4 separate regions of the Homo sapiens genome follow, and all the other regions are linked to region 4. The links come from fine-mapping of genetic effects on gene expression. A gene starts in region 4. Each other region holds a variant in brackets. All regions are shown on one strand. Distances are between the middles of the regions.

Region 1 (5,162 bases), 230 kb after region 4:
GCCACCTGGCCCCACCCTGCCCTTCCACAGTCTCAGGACACTGGCGGCCTCTGAGAGCCCCTGACCCCTGACCCCTGACCCTTACCTGGGAGCAGCTGTCAGAGCTGCCAGATGTTCCTCGTGGGGGCAGGCCGGTGAGGGATCATCCAGGATTCTCTGAAACTGCTGCTCCAGGGCTCTCGGGGAAAGCAGGCTGTTTCGGGAGTGGGTCCCCATGCGGAAGAATCGGCCCCGGTGGAAGACAGCCACGTGTTGGCTGTCATGGAGGTGGCGGATGTAGTCTAGGGGTGGCGTTGGCAGAAGCATGGGGGCAGGAAGGCCAGACACATAAAAATAGTGACCATTTATTATATACTTCTTAGGTGTCGTCAGTTGTTCAAAGTACCCTAGTAATCATCAGCACCCTAGGACTTTTATTTACTTAGTATTTGGAGACAAGGTCTCGCTCTGTCGCCAGGCTGGAGTGCAGTGGTGAGATCTCAGCTCACTGCAGCCTCAACCTCCGGGGCTCAGGTGATCCTTCCACTTCAGGCTCCCGATTAACTGGGGCCACAGGTGCATATCACCATGCCTGGCTAATTTTTAAATTTTGTATATAGACCGGATCTCACTACGTTGCCCTAGGCTGGTCTCGAACTCCTGGCCTAAGCAATTGTCCACCTCGGCCCCACAAAGTGCTGGGATTACAGGCATCAGTCACTGCGCCCAGCCCCTAGGTACAATTATTATCCCACTTTAGTGGAAGCTGAGGCTCAGAGAGGGTAATAACGTGCAGAAGGTCACACAGCAAGGAAGCAATGGTTCCCAGCTCAGTCAGGCGGACTCCAGAAAACATGCTCTTAGCCACTATATTGTTCTGCCTCCATCAGTGGGGACAGGAGAGGGTCTCACCTTTTTGGACCCCTGGAATCCGCGTGGTGTTGAAGATCTTCTCGTACTGGGCAGAGCATAAGGGGCGCATTCCCATCAGCAAAGTCTGCAGGAAACCGTGGGCTGTGAGCTGCCTTCCAGGACCCACGTGGCCCAAAGGCCACAGGACCACACCTCCATCCCTAACCCACTGGGGCCCTCTCACCGGGGGTATCTCCTGGCGGTTCAGGCGGTGGCGGTACAGGAGGAGGGCATGGACGGCATTCCCAGCGCGAGCTGCCTGCAGAGGCGTGGGTGTGACATACAGGAAGTCCTGGGGACCAGGAGAGGGGATGGCAAAACACCCAGGGTCAGGTTTGCCCCCGATGGAGCCACTGACCCAAATACAGGTCCTGACCCCAAAAGAGGGTGGAATGATGAATCCCAGATGGCGCGTCTAGATCCAGGTCACTGAGCATGACCGTCACATTCCGCCCAGGTACCCCCCAACCCTAGACCTGGGGCCTATGAACCTCACCCCTCCCCTTCTCACCATCATGTAATAGTTGCTGTTCACCATCAGCGGATTTCGGGAGCGCAGGTACACAAATTCCTCCCACCAGTCACTGACCTGGGAGCGGGGTGGGGAGACACACAGTGAGGGGCTGGGGCCTGTTGGGGGAGGGACAGTAGGACAGGGAAGGCCCCAGATGCTCCTGCGTCAGGCAGGGAGGATAGAGCCAAAGAAGTCAGCCATCGTAGTCAGTAACTAGCGATCACCTAGAAATCCATCCATGGGGGATCAGTTAGCTAAACCCTGTTATACTCCGGCAGTGGAATATTACATAGCTGGTGGAAATAACAAGGTACAGCTGGGCACGGTGGCTCCCGCCTGTAATCCCAGCACTTTGGGAGGCTAAGCGGGTGGATCACCTGAGGTCAGGTGTTCAAGACCAGCCTGGCCAACATGATGAAACCCTGTCTCTACTAAAAATACAAACATTAGCCACACGTGGTGGTGCACGCCTGTAATCCCGGCTACTCGGTAGCCTGAGGCAGGAGAATCGCTTGAGTCGGGGAGGCAGAGGTTGCAAGGAGCTGAGATCGCACCATTGCACTCCAGCCTGGGCAACAAGAGTGAAACTCCGTCCCCCCCAAAAAAGAAAAACAGAACATAAATGTAAAATTTATAAAACAATAAATATGTGAAATAATATACATATGTGTAAATACATGAAAATTGTGGCCTTGCCAATACCATGATAAAATTCAAACAATGAAAAACACAAAAGAAAGCACTGTGTCACGGTTTAGCTGCTCTTGTAGGGTTTTTTGTTGTTGTTGTTGTACATAAAAAAATGGTGCGTGTGTCACTGGCAGTTGGCTTGGAGGTACAATAAAATATACAGGCTGGGCGCAGTGGCTCACACCTCTTATCTCAGCATTTTGGGAGGCTGAGGTGGGAGGATAGCTTGAGCCTCGGAGTTTGAGACCAGTCTGTGCAACATAGCAAGACCCCATGTCTACAAAAAATTTAAAAATTAGCCAGGCTTAGGGGCACATGCCTGTAGTCCCAGCTACTCAGGAGGCTGAGATGGGAGGATGGCTTGAGTCTGGGAGGTCAAGGCTGCAGTGAGCTTTGATCACGCCACTGCACTACAGCCTGGGTGACAGAGTGAGACCCCTTCCAAGAAAGAAAAAGGAAAGAGAGAGAAAGAGAGAAGGAAGGAAGGAAGGAAGGAAGGGAGGGAGGGAGGGAGGGAGGGAGGGAGGGAGGAGAGAGAGACAGAAAGGGAGGGAGGGGGAGAGAGAGAAAGATAGAGAAAGAAAGAAAGAAAGAGGCCGGGCA[T/C]GGTGGCTCACGCCTGTAAATCCCAACACTTTGGGAGGCCGAGGCAGGCGGATCACGAGGTCAGGAGGTCGAGACCATCCTGGCTAACACGGTGAAACCCCATCTCTACTAAAAATACAAAAATACAAAAAAAAAAAAAAAGAAATTAGCCAGGTATGGGAGGCTGAGGCAGGAGAATGGCGTGAACCTGGGAGGTAGAGCTTGCAGTGAGCTGAGACGGTGCCAGTGCACTACAGCCTGGGCGACAGAGTGAGACTCCATCTCAAAGAAAAAAAGGAAGGAAGGAGACAGAAAAAAAGGAAGGAAAGAGAGAGAGAAGGCAGGCAGGCAGGCAGGAAAGAAGGTAGGAAAGGAGGGAGGGAGGGAGGGAAGGAAGGGAAGAAAGAAATGAGTGTGTGTGTGTGTGTGTGTGTGTGTGTGTAAACAGAATCTTGTCCAAAAGTGTGAAGAAAAAAATATTTAACCAGAAAAGCAAGGCCTGCATTCCCTTTTACTTCTCCAGATATTTCGTCCCCTTCGCTGGGTTTGACCAACTGAGGCTTCCACATAGCTGCCTCGTGGGGCTCTGCCGGGGACCCTCTTCCCTTCCCCTCTCACTCTTGCTGCAGCTTTTCTCATCCCAGCCCAGTGTCTCAATGACCTACAATGGTAGGTCTCACGGTAGCTTCCTCTGCAGCCTCCCGCCCTCCAGTCTTTCCCCCACACCAAAGCTGACCCTGCCCCTTCCCTGCTCCAAACCCTCCCATGGCTCCCTAGTACCCCCAGGAAAGAGTCCAGGATCCTCAGTCTGGAGTTCAGGCCTCTCCCACCACTCCTCACCATTCAACTCCTTTGGTTTTGTCTTTTTTTTTTTCTTTTCTTTTTTTTTTTTTGAGACAGAGTCTTGCTCTGTGGCCCAGGCCGAAGTGCAGTGGCGCGATCTCAGTTCAGTGCCACCTCTGCCTCCTGGGTTCAAGCAATCCTCCCGCCTCAGCCTCCCGAGTAGCTGGGATTATAGGCGTGTGCGCCACCAGACCTGTTTAATTTTTGTATTTTTAGTAGAGACGGGGTTTCACCATGTTGGCCAGGCTGGTCTTGAACTCTTGACCTCACGTGATCCGCCTGCCTTGGCCTCGCAACCTGCTGGCATTACAGGCGTGAGACATTGCACCAGGGCTAAGTCCTGGAATTCTGGTTCAAACTTTGGAAGATCAAGGGTGAAGCTCAGAATACTGGAGCATCTATACCCCAAACTTCAACATTAAATATATAGAGAGAGCATATATATGTTATGAGCATATATATATAAATAAATATATAAGCCTATATATAAATAAATATATATTTATTTATAATTTATAAATAAATATATATTTATTTATAATTTATAAATAAATAAATATATATTTATAATTTATAAATAAATATATATTTATAATTTATAAATAAATATATATTTATAATTTATAAATAAATATATATTTATAATTTATAAATAAATATATTTAATATATTTATAATATTTATATATTTATTTATAAATTTATATATAAATATATTTATATATAAATTTATAAATATTAATATTTGTATATAAATATAAATATATATATTTATAAATAAATATATATATTTATATATACACTATATATTTATATATAAATAAATATATATACATATATATTTTTATATATATATAAATGTGGAGGTTAGGATATAGATGTATGTGAGCGGGGCTCAGGGTATTGACCCTTGGGGGCTGGGGGCGTGTGGGTTGTGGGCGTGTCGTGGGGCAGGGCGTATAACTCGCAAGTTTAGCAGGCGAGCTCACAACCTTAGCCCTTCAGGTGGGGCGTTGGTGGCGGTGGCGGGACTCACATAATTGGACGCCCACCAGGACTTGAGCCGCAGGTACCACTGCAGCAGCGACGCCTGCAGCCTCAGGAATTCCTGCGCCAGGACCGCGGTCCAGTCGAAGTCCTCGTCGGAGAGGATGGGCCGGACCGACTCCAGGTACTAAAGGGGAGAAGAGGGCAGGTCACGCCCCCGGCCCGCCCCGGCCGCCCCAGCCCGTCTGCGCGCTCCCAGGCCCACCTTGCGCACGGTGTCCTGCACAGAGGGCACGGGCTGGCGTGGCAGGGAGCGCTGGTAACTGAACAGCATCGGGTGGCGGCCAGAGAAGATGCGGACCAGGGCCTGGGGAGGAGGAGTTACCGGGTCATTAACCCCTCACCGGAGCCAGGGAGTTGACGGGGCAGGGGTCGACAGTGGGACAGAAACCCAAAGAGAAGGACACAGAGACTTAAGAGCATCGGAGACCCCAAGAGAGAAAGGAACAGAGACCCAGAGACAGGGGACAGAGACCCAGAGAGAGGGGGACAGAGACCCAGAGAGAGAGGGGGGCAGAGACCCAGAGAGAGTCGGGGGTAGAGACCCAGAGGGGGGGACGGAGACACAGAGAGAGAGGGGGACAGAGACCCAGAGA
Region 2 (5,108 bases), 32 kb after region 4:
CTGTAATCCCAGGACTTTGGGAGGCCGAGGCGGGCAGATCACAAAGTCAGGAGATTGAGACCATCCTGGCTAACACGGTGAAATCTCATCTCTACTAAAAATACAAAAATTAGCCGGACGTGGTGGCAGGTGCCTGTAGTCCCAGCTACTCTGGAGGCTGAGGCAGGAGAATGGCGTGAACCCAGGAGGTGGAGCTTGCAGTGAGCCAAGATAGCGCCACTACACTCCAGCCTGGGTGACAGAGTGAGACTCCGTCTCAATTAAAAAAAACAAAAAAAACAAAAAACAGGTGTGGTAGTGCACTCCTGTAGTCCCAGCTACTAGGGAGGCTGAGGTGGGAGGATTGCTTGAGCCCGGGAGGTTGAGGCTGCAGTGAGCCGAGATTGTGCCACTGTGCTCTAGCCTGAGTGACACAGCAAGACCCCATCTCTCAAAACAACAACAACAACCACCCAGAAGTCCCCCAAGGTGAGCTGCACATATGCCTGGGGCCAGAGGAGTTTTGTGCAACAACCCTCTGTGATAAGGACAAGGGGATTGGTGCAGGGCCCCACCCACTCTGGGGACCCAAAAACTCCTGGGACATGCCCTGGGAGCCAGTTGGCTGTGGGCCTCCACACCTTTCCATGGTTGTTTCCACTGTTATGCGGCTGTAGGACTGAACAAGCTATTGGGCAGGGGCCGGGGACCTGGGGCCCACCCGACCTGGTGAGGAATGCCAGCACTGCCATTCCCCACTGTGGGACCCAGGTCGAGGCACAGGCGAATAAGGCCCCAATCCCGCCGCGTTCATACTTGACATGTCGCTGTGAATGAAACTCTGAGACCTAGGCCAAGCCTTTTCCCCTCTCTGTGCCCCAGGGTCCTCCTGTCCCACCCTCTCGCCATCTCCAAGCCTCAGTTTCCTCAACTATCAAATGCAGGCATTGTTGTTGGTTTTTTGTTTGTTTGTTTGTTTGTTTTTGAGACGGAGTCTCACTCTGTCCCCCAGGCTGGAGTGCAGCGGTGCAATCTCGGCTCACTGCAACCTCTGCCTCCCGGGTTCAAGCGATTCTCCTGCCTCAGTGTCCCGAGTAGTTGGGATTACAGGTGTGCACCACCACGCCTGGCTAATTTTTTATATTTTTGGTAGAGACAGGGTTTCATCATTTTGGCCAGGTTGGTCTTGAACTCCTGACCTCAAGTGATCCGCCCACCTCAGCCTCCCAAAGTGCTGGGATTACAGGCGTAAGCCACTGTGCCTGGCCTCAAATGCAGGCATTGTGAGGCTTACGATGGGTGCAAAGCCCTGAGCACCAGGCGGCCTCCAAGGCAGGTGATCGCCATGGGAACATTTTTGTCACTATTTTTTTCTTTTTTAGAGAAAGGGTTTCGCCATCTTGGCCAGGCTGGTCTCGAGCCCCTGGGCTCAAGCAATCCTCCCACCTCGGCCTCCCAAAGTGCTAGGATTACAGCAGTGAGCCTCCGCACCCGGCCCTCATTACTATTTTTTATTTTTATTTTTTATTTTTTGAGATGGAGTCTGGCTCTGTCACCCAGGCTAGAGTGCAGTGGCACGATCTCAGCTCACTGCAACCTCCACCTCTTGGGTTCAAGCAATTCTCCTGTCCCAGCCTCCTGAGTAGTTGGGACTACAGGCGTATGCCACCATGCCCGGCTAATTTTTATATTTTTAGTAGAGACGAGGTTTTGCCATGTTGGCCAGGCTGGTCTTGAACTCCTGACATCAGGTGATCCGCCTGCCTCGACCTCCCAAAGTGCTGGGATTATAGGCGTGAGCCACCCCTGGCCCTCGTCACTATTTTTGCTGACCCAAGCTCTTTCGGTCCCTGAACTCTCCAGCTCTTTGATCATTTCCCTTTGCCACGGCCTCCCGCCCCTGCGTCACATGCCTTGTTACTCACATTCACCCCCCAGCCCCTCC[C/T]GGCCATAACCGCATCCCTCTTTGATTTACTGCGGGAGTTTCCCATCTTCCTTCTTGTTAATGCCCTCCAACCCCCACCCAACCCTTGCTGCAGAGAATCTGCCTCCCTCTGGTTTTCCTCCTCACGGAGCCCCTGGCTCCCTCTCCCCCACCCCAAGGAAAGTCCCTGCTATTGTTTCTCCACCCCCACCCACTCCAAGGTGCCGCCCCACTCCCTGCCCTGAGCACTGAGGTGGTTCTTAAAGCAGGGATGGGTGAAGCCTGGGCGCTTCCCTCTGCCGGGTGGTCACTCATAGAACCCCTGAGTGCCCCTGCGGCCACAGCAGCTGGCATTTCCAAAGGAGCAGCTTCCAGTACTACCCCAGGTTCCGGCCACAGAACTTAACCTGGATTCACTCACTTGATCCTAAAACACTGTGACGTCTGTAGACGTCATTTGACAGCTGTAGACGAGAGCCACAGAGGGGAGGGCGGGCTCAGAGCCCACGTCCTGACCCCGGGACCACGGCTGCCAGCCCCACTGCTACACCCATGTAACGGAGGGGGAGACTGAGGCTCTGGGTGGCAAGTGGAGAGGGAAGTGGAACCATGGGGGGCCCTGCAGGACATGGCGACACCTGACGGAGAGGGACTTGGAGGGGAAAGTTGGCCTGGCCCAGGGACCTGTAGCCCCTCTGTCCCCGTGGGAATCAAGGAGGCAGAGAGAGTGCAGGGGAGGATAGAAACAAGTGGCCTGGTGATCAGGGACGGGGGCAAACCGAAGGGGATTCCCCGTTGTTGGCACGGTTACCTGAGCATCTATTTCTGGCCTCCAAACCACCCCAGAACTATCTGGGGCAAAAGGAAGTGAATAGACTGATTAACTTCCTCCAACCCCCTTTCTCCAACCTCAACTAGACTCTGAGCATTGGACCAGAGCAGCTCCAGGAAACCAGTTTCATTTCCCTCGGCCAGTTTCCCAAAAGGAGGGGTGGGCGGGGCTCTGCCAGTTTAAGGGGAGAGAAAGGGCCACAGCAGAGACAGTGGAGGGCAGTGGAGAGGACCGCGCTGTCCTGCTGTCACCAAGAGCTGGAGGTAGTGACACGGCCAGTGGTGGGGGGACAGAGAGACAGGACCCACAGAAATAGGGACTGAGAAGCAGTCAGGAGCTGGGGAGATGAGGAAGAGGGAAAAGAGGCCGGGCGCGGGGGCTCATGCCTGGAATCCCAGCACTTTGGGAGGCCGAGGTGGGTGGATCACCTAAGGTCAGGAGTTCGAGACCAGCCTGGCCAACATGGCGAAACCCCGTCTCTACTAAAAATACAAAAATTAGCCAGGTTTGGTTATGGGTGTCTGTAATCCCAGTTACTTGGGAGGCTGAAGTGGGAGGATTCTTGAACCTGGGAGGCGGAGGTTGCAGTGAGCCAAGATCTTACCACTGCACTCCAGCCTGGATGGCAGAGAAAGACTGTTAAAAAAAAAAGAAAGAAAGGAAAGAAAGAGGGAAAAGAAGAGAAAGAGACAGGAACCCGAGAGAGCTGTGGCAGAGGTGGAGACCGGTGAGGAGGGAGGCAGGGACGGTCCAGGGGACTCTGAAGGAATGGGGTTAGGGGACACAGGTCCAGAGAGCAGGACAGTGACTGGGGGAGGGCCGGCTCTAGCAGCTGGGCAGCCCATGGGAGACAGAGTCAGGCTACAGTGGTCACAGGCCTCAGTCACAACAGCCCTCCCTTCTCCTCCACCCCAGACACCATCTCCCACCGAGAGTCATGGCCCCATTGGGTGAGTAAGCAGGGGAGGGGCTCTGGAACAAGTGAGTAGAACCCCTCTCCCCCGACCTGCCACAACCCCGTTGACCCTGTCCTCCTCCTCCCAGCCCTGCACCTCCTCGTCCTCGTCCCCATCCTCCTCAGCCTGGTGGCCTCCCAGGACTGGAAGGCTGAACGCAGCCAAGACCCCTTCGAGAAATGCATGCAGGATCCTGACTATGAGCAGCTGCTCAAGGTGGTGACCTGGGGGCTCAATCGGACCCTGAAGCCCCAGAGGGTGATTGTGGTTGGCGCTGGTGTGGCCGGGCTGGTGGCCGCCAAGGTGCTCAGCGATGCTGGACACAAGGTGGGAAGCACTGCTTGCAGTCTACCTGGAGTCCCTCCTGCTGCAGGCTGGAGTCCCTGGGCACAGGGACACGGCCGCGTTCCTCCTTGAGGGGGTGGAGGTGGGGATGTGGGGGGAGAGGCTATCTTTCCCTGTAGTCTGGGGGTGAGGCCCAAGCCCCCTGCTGTCACATGTCTCCACTGAGAGGCCCCAGACTTTCCTGTCCCACGTTTTTCATCCCAGAGGGAAGTCTCACTGGCTCAAAGCTCCTCTGTCCTGGGGTGGGGCGCCTGTTGGTGGAGAGGGAAACTCTACCAAGGGGATGTGTGCCCTGAGGTCTAACCACTGACCTACTCACTGCAATCCGAGAATGAGAATGGGCCAGCCCAGGGGCTTCTACGCATATGGGTCATCTCCGAACTCCCCGAGCTGGGAAGTCCCTTTGCAGTCTAGCTGGCAGCCTTCCTCCTGCAGTCTGGAACTGCTCACTCAGTTCTGTTCCCCCACCTCCATACAGAAGGGGACCCTCTCCTAGTCTGGGTCTGGGCCACTGTGGGGATGGAAGAAGGCAGGGGGCTGGCACGGGGTGGTAGAGGGCAGGGGATGGTCAGTGGGTGGAGCTGAAGGGCCCTCCTCGCCCCACGGACTCCCTCAGGTCACCATCCTGGAGGCAGATAACAGGATCGGGGGCCGCATCTTCACCTACCGGGACCAGAACACGGGCTGGATTGGGGAGCTGGGAGCCATGCGCATGCCCAGCTCTCACAGGTGACCTAGCAACCCACCCACCTGTGTGCCTAGACTCAACTAGCCCCCCAGCTCCATGCCCACACCAGAGTGGGCCCGAACTTCCACTCTGACTCCCAAACCCAGCCTCCAACCCCATCCTTCGCCTAATCCTCACCTCAGTCTTGCCTCCAGCGCCAGCCCTGGGCCTCTGGCAACACTCGGGCCACCTGGTCCAACCAGACCTCCAGCTGGCCCTGCCTGGTGCAAAAGCCAGCTCCTGTGCTGGCCCCTCCAGGCCTGCAGCTCCACCATCCCCACACCCTCAGGCACCCCAGCCCCAGGCCCCTTCTTCATCTCAAACCCCCGTCCAACCCAAACTCTG
Region 3 (5,110 bases), 25 kb after region 4:
CTGTCGTTCCCCGTGTGTCCCCAGCCCGGTCCCTGTCACATTTGTTAAATGAAAGAACAATGAAGCCCAGTGTAACGTCAGTCCACAGAAATAGCCACAGCTTCCAGTGGTGGCCGTAGACTTGGCTCGGAACTTAGTGGCACCAGAGTAACTCTAGTCAGTTACAGTAAAATCCACTGTGTGTGGAAGGCAGAAGCTAGCGGTTGTATCCCAAGCATCTTTTGTATTTGTCTTTATACTTTGCTGAATTCTCTGAAATACCTATTACTGTATGTTGCTTTTCTAAATAAATGTATTGTGAAACCAAAACAGCTGCTGTTAATATGGATAAATGTTAGGAGGAGAAAGCTGAGTAAAAAGAGCAGGTTCCAGGAGACTCTGCAGGGGTGCCATTCACATGAAACGCACAGGCAAGCAAATGAAGTAGTGCTTGCATAGACATAGGGGTATGCGATGAAGCAGCTTTTGTTTGATGAGACAGAGTAATAGACAAATGCAAATCGTGGTTTGCTCCAGGAAGGGGTGGTGCTAGTGGTAGAAGAGGAACACACGAGTGAAGCCGCCACGGGGAGTGGGCTCCAGGTGTTTTGTGACAGTTATGTCGTAGAATATACACAAATATGGCTGGGCGAGGTGGCTCACACCTGTAATCCCAGCACTTTGGGAGGCCAAGATGGGCAGATCACTTGAGGTCAGGGATTCAAGACCAGCCTGGGCAACATGGTGAAACCCCGTCTCTATAAAAACTACAAAAAAGTTTGGTTGTGCGTGGTGGCACGCAACTGTGGTCCCAGCTACCTGGGAGGCTGAGATGGAAGGATCATTTAAGCCCAGGCCTTTGAGGCTGCAGTGAGCCATGATCACACCACTGCACTCCAGCCTGGGCGACAGAGCAAGACTCTGTCTCAAAAAATATACACACATGTTAAGTCATCTAGTACCATCCCTAAGGCGCTATTCCAGTGGTTACAGATGTCATGGGCAGCATTCCTTCCTGTCACCTGGGGCTAAAGACACGGGCCCAATGCTCTTCCTCCACCCTCCAGCCTCGCTCTATGGACTGGAATGGTCCTAAGCACTCAGATCTCCTGGGCTGTGGGGAGTGGAGTGTACCCCTTTGGCCTCCTGCTGCCTGTTCCATCTCAGTCTGTGGGCAACACTTGGGAGATTCATGGCCCAGGTTCCAAAAGTCTCCCGAAGTCATGATCATGAGTCATTATTTCCTTGGACCGGCCAGGTGCGGTGGCTCACACCTGTAATCCCAGCACTTTGGGAGGCCAAGGCTGGCAGAACACCTGAGGTCAGGAGTTCGAGACCAGCATGGCCAACATGGAGAAATCCCATCTCTACCAAAAATACAAACATGAGCTGGTGGCTAGTTAAGTGGCGGGCGCCTGTAATCCCAGCTACTCGGGAGGCTGTGGCAGGAGAATCGCTTGAACCCGAGAGGTGGAGGTTGCAGTGAGCCGAGATCATGCCATTGCACTCCAGCCTAGGCAACAAAAGCGAAACTTCGTCTCAAATAAATAAATAAAATTTCCTTGCACCATCTTGGGCTCTGGAGGACAAGAGTTGTGTCTAAGTAGAAACCATGGGTGTGTGTGGTGGGAGCAGTAAACCAGAGGAAGACCCCACAACCCAGCTACTTCTCTCTGAAAGCTGTCACCTACAGCAGGGACCTTTTCCTGCAGTTCATAGGCCTTGACTCATATTGTCCCCTCTGCCGGAAGGGAGGCCTTGAGTCCCCTTAGGAGGTAGGAAGCAGTTTGCATTTTACCTACATTTGTGCGTTCAGCATCCATTTTTAGAGCTGATCCTGATCTGGTGCTGGAGGTACCAAAAAATGCCCACAAGGTCGTTGGCAGGGGCCACACAATCATGATGAGAAAATTTGAGCATGTATTTCCAAAGTGTACATGTATATTTTTCCTATTATTTTGCATATTATTTCCTATTTTGTATATTAACCATTAGCAAAGCTTAATTGCTTTCTTATAGTTATATTTTTAAAATAAATTCCAGCTTTGGGAGGCCGAGGCGGGTGGATCACCTGAGGTCAGGAGTTTGAGACCAGCCTGGCCAACATGGTGAAACCCCGTATCTTCTAAAAATACAAAAATTAGGGGCTGGGCACGGTGGCTCATGCCTGTAATCCCAGCCCTTTGGGAGGCCAAGGTGGGCGGATCACGAGGTTAGGAGATCGAGACCATCCTGGCTAACACGGTGAAACCCTGTCTCTACTAAAAATATAAAAAAATTAGCCGGGTGTGGTGGCAGGCGCCTATAGTCCCAGCTACTCGGGAGACTGAGGCAGGAGAATGGCATGAACCCGGGAGGCGGAGCTTACAGTGAGCAGAGATCAAGCCACTGCACTCCAGCCTGGGCAAAAGAGTGACTCCGTCTCAAATAAGTAAATAAATAATACAAAAATTAGCCCGGCGTGGTGGTGGGTGCCTGTAACTCCCAGGTACTCAGGAGAATCACTTGAACCTGGGAGGCGGAGGTTGCAGTGAGCCAAGATCGCGCCACTGCACTCCAGCCTGGGCAACAAAGTTAGACTTCATCTCAAAAAAAAAATTTTAAGTTCTGCATTTTCTTCCCATACCCCAAAGGATCTTGAGCACCCCACTCTGAATAACACAAGTGATTCCATTAAATCAG[G/A]AGGCTCTGTGCCCCAAAGCCATGTGAGAAATGGTCCCAACAGGCCTCCTGGGGGAGTCTAGGAGGGATCCCGAGATCGCAGCAGCATCAGCAACCGACTGGGTGCCACCGCGGGTGATGGCTCCATCGTAATTTCAGTTTCCCTTTCCAGGAAGAAAATACACAGATGTGCTTCCTTCCCAGTCCTGACAAATGGCCTTTCCTTAAGTTCCTCATTAATTCATATGAAGACAACACATTTGGTGACTAAATTTGGAATCAGAGGCTTTTAAAGGTGAATCTCAGCTCTTACTGCTTTGCTTTCCCCTGTTTAGGGATAAGAGTGGCAAATGGGGGCTGGGTGTGGTGGCTCATGCCTGTAATCCCGACATTTTGGGGAGGCCAAGGGGAGTAGATTACTTGGGGTCTGGAGTTTGAGACCAGCCTGGGCAACATGGCGAAACCTCGTCTCTACAAAAATACAAAAATTAGCCTGGCGTAGTGGCTCCTGCCTGTAGTTTCAGATACTTGGAGGCTGAGGTGGGAGGATCACATGAACCTGGGAGGCAGACATTGCAGTGAGCCGAGATCGTACCACTGCACTCCAGCCTGGGTAACAAAAGTGAGACCCTGTCTCAAAAAAAAAAAAAAAAAAAAAAAAAACCCAGCACATATAACAGTATAATATGTAGTCAAACCATGAGGGAATGATGACTTTTTATTCTTTTTTAGTAAAAACTAATCATCAATACAATTTATTTTTTAGTAATGAGTGGCTTGCAAAGCAAAAACTCCTGAAAATGTAAATCAGCTCTTATGACCTGGTATGACTCAGCTTCAGCACACCACTGCTCCCAAGTTTTCAGTAAACCCCAAAAATGTCAGGGTGCTTTAAAAATCTGCCCCTCAGACTCAGGGCAGCGGCTCTCCACAGAACCTCCCAGGGAGCAAAGCCCTCACGCTCGGAAGCGAGGTCTGCTTCTTGCACAGCAGCCAGCCCCCCAGCCAGGTTTCAGTGACCCCGGCTGTTCCCCTGCCTGTCCCACAGGACCACACCCTTGGCTTCTGCACACCAGGGCCCTGGTGACTTCAAACACAGTGACCCACATGGGCGCCCTTGTCCCGTCTCCCCTCCAGACACCATCAGGTTGAACCCTCTCAGACGCCAAAGGTTTCCCGAGGCAAGAAGCAGACCGGGTGCGCTGCCGTGATGGGGACTAGCCTGGTGCCCTGGGGTCACCTCAGATACCCTAGTTCCCTTGAATCCACAGAACTGATAGTGACACTTACTGACCAAGACAATGTCACTCAAATGCAATATGGACTGTGATTTGCATCTTGACAAACCAACCGTTTTTTGTTTTGTTGTTGTTTTTTTTTTCAGAGAGTCCTGCTCTGTTGCTCAGGCTGGCGTGCAGTGGTGTGATCTCGGCTCACTGCAATCTCTGCCTCCCGGGTTCAAGCGATTCTCCTGCCTCAGCCTCCTGAGTAGCTGGGACTACAGGCGTGCACTACCACACCCAGCTAATTTTCGTATTTTTAGTAGAGACAGGGTTTTACCATGTTGGCCAGGATGGTCTTGATCTCCTGACCTTGTGATCCACCTGTCTCGGCCTCCCAGAGTGCTGGGATTACAGGCATGAGCCACCACACCTGGCCTTTTTTTTTTGAGATGCAGTCCCGCTCTGTCGCCTAGGCTGGAGTGGCATGATCTCAACTCATAGCGACCTCTGCCTCCCAGGTTCAAGTGATTCTCCTGCCTCAGCCTCCTGAGTAGCTGGGATTACAGAGGTGCCCGCCACCACGCCTGGCTAATTTTTGTATTTTTAGTAGAGATGGGGTTTCACCATGTTGCCCAGGCTGGTCTTGAGCTCCTGACCTCAGGTGATCCGCTCACCTCGGCCTCCCAAAGTACTGTGATTGCAGGTGTCAGCCACCATGCCCGGCCTAAACTGTTTTTTTGTTTTGTTTTGTTTTGTTTTTCAGTGATGAGCTATTCCAGGAAACGTGAACATTGATTTAATGATATTAAGAAATGGCTGCCATCCGGAGCTTGCAGTGAGCCGAGATCGTGCCACTGCACTCCAGCCTGGGCAACTGAGCGAGACTCCATCTCAAAAAAAAAAAAAAAAAAGAAATGGCTGCCATCTTAAAATATGATAATGATATTGTAGTTTTTAAAAAGCAAAACATGGTCAGGTGCAGTGGCTCAGCCTTGTAATCCCAGCACTTTGGGAGGCCAAGATGGGAGGGATCACCCGAAGTCAGGAGTTCGAGACCAGCCCAGCCAACATGGTGAAACCCTGTCTCTACTAAAAATACGAAAATTAGCTGGGCATGGTGGCCTGTACCTGTAATCGCAGCTCCTCGGGAGGCTGAGGCAGGAGAACCACTTGAACCCAGGAGGTGGAGGTTGCAGTGAGCTGAGATTGTGCCACTGCACTCCGGCCTGGGTGACAGAACGAGACTC
Region 4 (5,162 bases):
CAATCAACCCATTAATCAACCAATGAACCAGTTAACCAAAACCCAACAAATTAGCCAATGAAAGAATCAGTCTTAACCCATAAGAGGGTCCAGGAGAAAAAAAAAATTAAAAAAGAAAAAAAGAACCAGCCAACCAACCAATGACTCAAGCAACAGTCAACCAAGCATTTCTTCAACCATTCCAACATCTCCTTTACCGAGTACTCTGTATCTGTGGTGTCTCTATTCTCTCTTTTTAAAAGGCAAACTAGATCACATTACACACACAGATACACACGCACATATGCCTTGTTTCATCTTTACTCATTAATTATTGAAAACCCACTATGTGCCAAGCATTTGGGATACAGTAATGAATGAAATGATTCCTGCCTCCTGAGGGCTTCTGCATATACAGTTCCCTCCAACTAAAATGCTCTTCCCTTGGGTGTTTTCCTCATTCCTTCCCTACTTTTTTTTTATTTTAAGGGATAGGGTTTCACTCTGTTGCCCAGGCTGCAGTGCAGTGGCATCATCTTGGCTCACTGCAGCCTAGACCTCCCAGGCTCAAGCGATCCTCCCACCTCAGCCTCCCAAGTAGCTGTGACTACAAGCGTGAGCCACCATGCCTGGCTAATTTTTTTTTTCCTATAGATATGAGGTCTCGCTATGTTGCCCACGTCCTGAACTCCTGGACTAAAGCAATTCTCCCCGCTTGGCCTCCCAAAGTGCTGGGATTACAGGCCATCATGCCTGGCTTCCTTCCCATCATTTATGCCTCAGTCAACATGTTACCTACTTGGAGAAGGTTTTCTGGCTACCCATTCTATATTAGGTCCCCTTTGTCATTTTGTAGCTCAGCTGCTAGGTGTTTTTGACTTATTCCAATACACTCTCATTTAATTTATCTCTGGTCTACTCCCCACAGTGTGAGCTGCTGGAAGGCACAGACCATGTTCTTCTTGTTCCCAGCCGTATCCTCAGCACCTAAAACAGTGCCTGGCACATTGTAGGCACTCAATATTTATTGAATACATGGATGAGTTCTTCCTCCCCCATCTTCCCCTGCCCTCCACTCCCCAGCTCCACCTTCCACCTGCCCTTACCTGCCAGGGGCTCTCCCCCCACTGGAAGCCCGCCCTCCAGGGCTCCCCCAAGGACCTCATAGGGAGCCAGGGGGGCAGGGGCCGGGGGGAGTTTCCCATAGTCTACGAGCCATCCCAGCCCACTAGCTGGGAGCAGGGCCCTGTCCAGCTCCAGCCCCAGGGTCGCCAGGAGTGACATGGCTGTAGCACAGGTGCTGGGCACTGATGGCAACAGGAGAGGCTGCACCAGCAGCTGGCACGAGGCTCTGGAGGATGCTCAGGTGGGCGAAGACAGGCACCAAGGCGAAAGTGGAAGACCTACACGCGTGAGACAAGAGTGGGTGTGGTCAGGACAGCGTCATCCACCGGCCAAAATCAAGGGGAAGCCAAGCCACACCCCCAGGCACGTCCATGAGGCTCCTCCCTCCCCCTTCCAACCACCGTTTAGAACACTAAGCCTCAGCCTCTCCGAATTCTAAATTTGCCCTTTCTTTACCCAAATCTCTGAGCCCCACCCACTCCCAAGGGAATTTCTTTAGGTCCTAAAGTAGGACCGATGCCCCACCCCTTCCCCCAATACAGAAAAAAAAAACCTAAAGGTCTCCCAGGGGAATTACCTTAGGCCCCTCCCATCCACCTCAGAATATTTCGCCTCAAGGAAAAACTCAATCCCAGGGACATTTTCTTCCAGCCACGCCCCTTCCTCTAAAATATTTCCTTTTGGCCCCACTGCCTTCCTAGCTTCCATCCCAAACCAGTTCCCAGGGGAACTGCCCCAGGCCGCAGCCCTTCAGCAATGTTATCCACTCAAATCCCACTCCTCGCTCTGCCGCTGCCCCTCCAAGCCCCGCCCCTCATTGTTTATTTAGCTCCGCCCCTCCCCCGATTCCCCAGAGGCCCCGCCTCTTTGTCACATCGAAACCCCACCCCTCAACTAACGGTTGGTTTAGCCCCGCCCCTTCTCACAATGTGCTTCCGAAATCCCACCCATCGTGACGACAGTGGTTCTATCCCCACCCACTTAGAGGGTTGCCTCTGGGTCCCGCCTTCTGCCCTGTCAATCTAAGCCAGTCCCCGCCTCAGCAGGTGCCTGGTTTAAAAGGAAGGAAGCTGGGCTGTGAGCCAGAGCAACGTGGGGCAGGGAGGGTGGAGGAGGGTAGAGGGGGCACGCGGAGAACGGCTACCCGAACGCCACCCGTCCACACGCGGCTCTGCGCCGAGGGCCAAGGCGCATGCTACGTCGCCCGAGCGGTCCAATTGCCTTTACACCTCCGCCCTCTTGGGGATCAATGCGCATGTGCGGCCATTCAGGGTCCGCAGCTCTTTCACTACGGGGCACTGGTGGGCTACTGCGCAGGAACAACCAAGCACGAAGAATCGTTTAGAAAAAAAAAAAACACACCCTCCCCTGGAGTGCTCAGGCCCAGCTGCACGCGGGCTGACAAACATCGAGTCTAGAACTCTCCCACCCGGCCCCGGGCCCAGTGCGCATGCGCAGCCGCGCGCCTTCGGCCCACCGTACTACTTCTGCGCCTGCGCGACCGTGATTCCCCGCTCGCGACTCCCCACCCCCCAGGGCTCCCTAAAGAGGGCCACGAGCTGCGAAAGGGCGGGAAAGGCAGTTGGAGAAGAGGTAAGCGGTTACTCACTCCATGGCTGCAGCAAGGAGAGGCGGCGGCGGCCTCGGCTGAAGAAAGAAGGTGGGAGCGGAGAGCGCAGGCGTGGTGAGCGCGGAGACGGGCCGGGGGCACAAAGGGGTCGAGGCTACAGAGCCATGGCCGGGGCTACGCAGGCAGAGGCGGCGACACTGTAGTGAGAAGAGACTGTGATCCGAGGACAGGGAATGAGGCGGCCCCGGGGACTGGGGACAGATATATACTGGGTGGCGGAGCACGGCCCTCCCGGATCCTTCCGCGCCCCGCCCTCGCGCGGCCCCAACCGGGAGGCAGCCGGGTCCCCTCCTCCTGGGGATCAGGGGATCCGAGCCTTTCCTTCCCACTCCTAGGGTCCGGGACCCTCCTCCCTCTCAGCTGGGGATCCGACCTCTTCCCTCTGAGCCGGGGATCCAGCCCTCTCCTTGTGGCTCCGGGGTCTGGTTTCCTCCTCCTGACTCTAAGCTCTGGTTTCTTTCTCTTTCTGCCTCTGAGGTCTGGGCCTGCTTCCTCCTGTGATTTTGAGGATCCAGCCTCATTCTCTTCCCGCAGACCTGCACCAGTTCATTTCTCTTTCCCTTTCCTTGCTTGCAGAATTTCCTGCCAGTCACTTTTCACTTCTTCATCCCCCAGCTGCTGACTCTGAGAAACCCTCGTGGGTTAGAGTCCAGCATGAGTCACAGCACTCTCCCAAATACAGACCTGCCAGGATGGCCTCGGGCAAATAACTTAAGTTCTCTTACTTCATTTCCCTATCTGTAAAATAAGAAAAATCAACTCGCCTGGTGGGTTTATGAGACTCAAATAAGACGATGTCTGGCAAGCCTTATGCACAGAGCTCAACTCATACATTCCTGTTCAACTGTTTTTTTTTTTTGAGACGGAGTCTCTCCGTCTCTGTCGCCCAGGCTGGAGTGCAGTGGCGCGATCTCGGCTCACTGCAAACTCCGCCTCCCAGGTTCACGCCATTCTCCTGCCTCAGCCTCCCGAGTAGCTGGGACTACAGGCGCCCGCCACCACGCCCGGCTAATTTTTTGTATTTTTAGTAGAGACGGGGTTTCACTGTGTTAGCCAGGATGGTCTCAATTTCCTGGCCTCGTGATCCGCCCGCCTCGGCCTCCCAAAGTGCTGGGATTACAGGCGTGAGCCATCGCTCCCGGCCTCAGCATATTTTATTAATAGGAACTCTGGGGCCCAGTCTCATTTCTTCCTTACCACTTGTAAGAGCCGCAGACGTTGGACTGTCCAACACCTGCTGTCATTCTTCTGTCTCCCTCATCCCTCTAAAGTGTCTGTTTCCAGCTATCCTCATCTTCCATTCCAAATGATGGGTGCCCAGGCCCCATCCCCTGGCAGGGATTCAGACATCGAGGCCCCAGCTGCGTCCTTTTCTCCATCCCTTGCCCTTGGCTTCCTTTCAAACCGTCCTTCAGCTTCCACTGGATAGGAACTATCTCCCAACCCTGCCAAAAATGGAAGATCTCCGTTTTCGTTTAGTCACAGGGTAGCCATCTTGCCCCTTCTCATGCACTGGGCCCTCCTCCACCAGCCGAGGTGGATGTCCGTCTTTTCTCTGTTGCAGAAACCCACCTTGTCCCATCCACATCAGGACATCCCAGCTGGAGTTCAACCTTCATCCCTTCTGTGGCAGTTAGGAGACTGAATCAAGGTCCAGAGAAGGTGGAGGAATCCTGATACTGAGCGGTACACACAAGCTTCTTTCTCCTTCCTTACCTGTTGCGGGCAGGAAGTCCTTCTTGGGATCTGACCACCTTCCCTTAGAGCACTTACTGTCCACTCTGCCAGTTTTTGAGCACTTGCCCTATATTTTCTTGGGCCTATAGGGGCTGTGTTATCACTGAGGCAGTATACAGAGTAGCAGCTAAGAGCATAGACTGAGCTTGTCCCACCCGTGGGCCTGCATGCGGCCTAGAACAGCTTTGAATGCAGCCTAACACAAATTTGTAAACCTTACCAAAACATGCGAATTTTTTGCGATTTTTTTTTAAGTTCATCAGCTATCAATAGTGTATGTTATGTGTGGCCTAAGACAATTCTTCAATGTGGCCCCAGGAAGCCAAATTTTATACATACCTGGCATAGACTCTGGAGCCAGATTATATGAGTTCAAAACTTGACTGCACCCCTCTTACTAGCTGTGTGACCCTGGCCATTTCCCTTCCCTGTGCCTCAGTTTCCCCTGTGGTACGAAGTGGCATTAAGAATACCTACCTCTGGACCAGGCACGGTGGCTCATGCCTGTAGTCCCACCACCCTGGGAGGCTGAGGTGGGCAGATTGCTTGATCTCAGGAATTCGAGACCAGCCTGGGCAACATGGTGAAACCCTGTCTCTACCAAAAATACAAAAAAATAGTCGGGTGTGGTGGTTTGCACCTGTGGTCCCAGCTACTCATGAGGCTAAGGCAGGAGGATCACTTGAACCCT

Evidence for each region.
Region 1: its variant is fine-mapped to the expression of ATF5 in tibial artery (GTEx, PIP 0.95).
Region 2: its variant is fine-mapped to the expression of ATF5 in whole blood (TOPMed, PIP above 0.99).
Region 3: its variant is fine-mapped to the expression of ATF5 in skeletal muscle (GTEx, PIP 0.92). The same link has a PIP of 0.9 or more in esophagus muscle and sun-exposed skin.

What each region holds. Positions count from the first base shown.
Region 1 is chr19:49,701,028-49,706,189 of GRCh38, reverse strand. It overlaps CPT1C (carnitine palmitoyltransferase 1C), which reads right to left. Exons shown (of 20, transcript NM_001199753.2): 6 at 4,772-4,873; 7 at 4,556-4,693; 8 at 1,403-1,480; 9 at 1,076-1,183; 10 at 892-976; 11 at 86-281. Among named protein-coding and RNA genes, the nearest start is that of CPT1C, 12 kb to the right of the region's middle. The variant T/C (reference allele first, on the strand shown) is at 2,699.
Region 2 is chr19:49,894,725-49,899,832 of GRCh38, reverse strand. It overlaps IL4I1 (interleukin 4 induced 1), which reads left to right and starts at 2,946. Exons shown (of 8, transcript NM_152899.2): 1 at 2,946-2,998; 2 at 3,651-3,685; 3 at 3,780-4,018; 4 at 4,653-4,765. The coding sequence starts at 3,673. RefSeq lists enhancers at 1,837-2,016, 4,411-4,460. The variant C/T (reference allele first, on the strand shown) is at 1,925.
Region 3 is chr19:49,902,024-49,907,133 of GRCh38, reverse strand. NUP62 (nucleoporin 62) reads left to right here. Exons shown (of 3, transcript NM_016553.5): 3 at 1-309. It also overlaps a transcript of IL4I1 not described here. Among named protein-coding and RNA genes, the nearest start is that of IL4I1, 7.7 kb to the right of the region's middle. The variant G/A (reference allele first, on the strand shown) is at 2,662.
Region 4 is chr19:49,926,952-49,932,113 of GRCh38, reverse strand. ATF5 (activating transcription factor 5) reads right to left here and starts at 2,909. Exons shown (of 3, transcript NM_001193646.2): 1 at 2,714-2,909; 2 at 1,086-1,382. The coding sequence starts at 1,263. NUP62 (nucleoporin 62) reads left to right here and starts at 2,610. Exons shown (of 3, transcript NM_016553.5): 1 at 2,610-2,788; 2 at 4,299-4,420. It also overlaps a transcript of IL4I1 not described here. RefSeq lists silencers at 2,120-2,169, 3,020-3,079.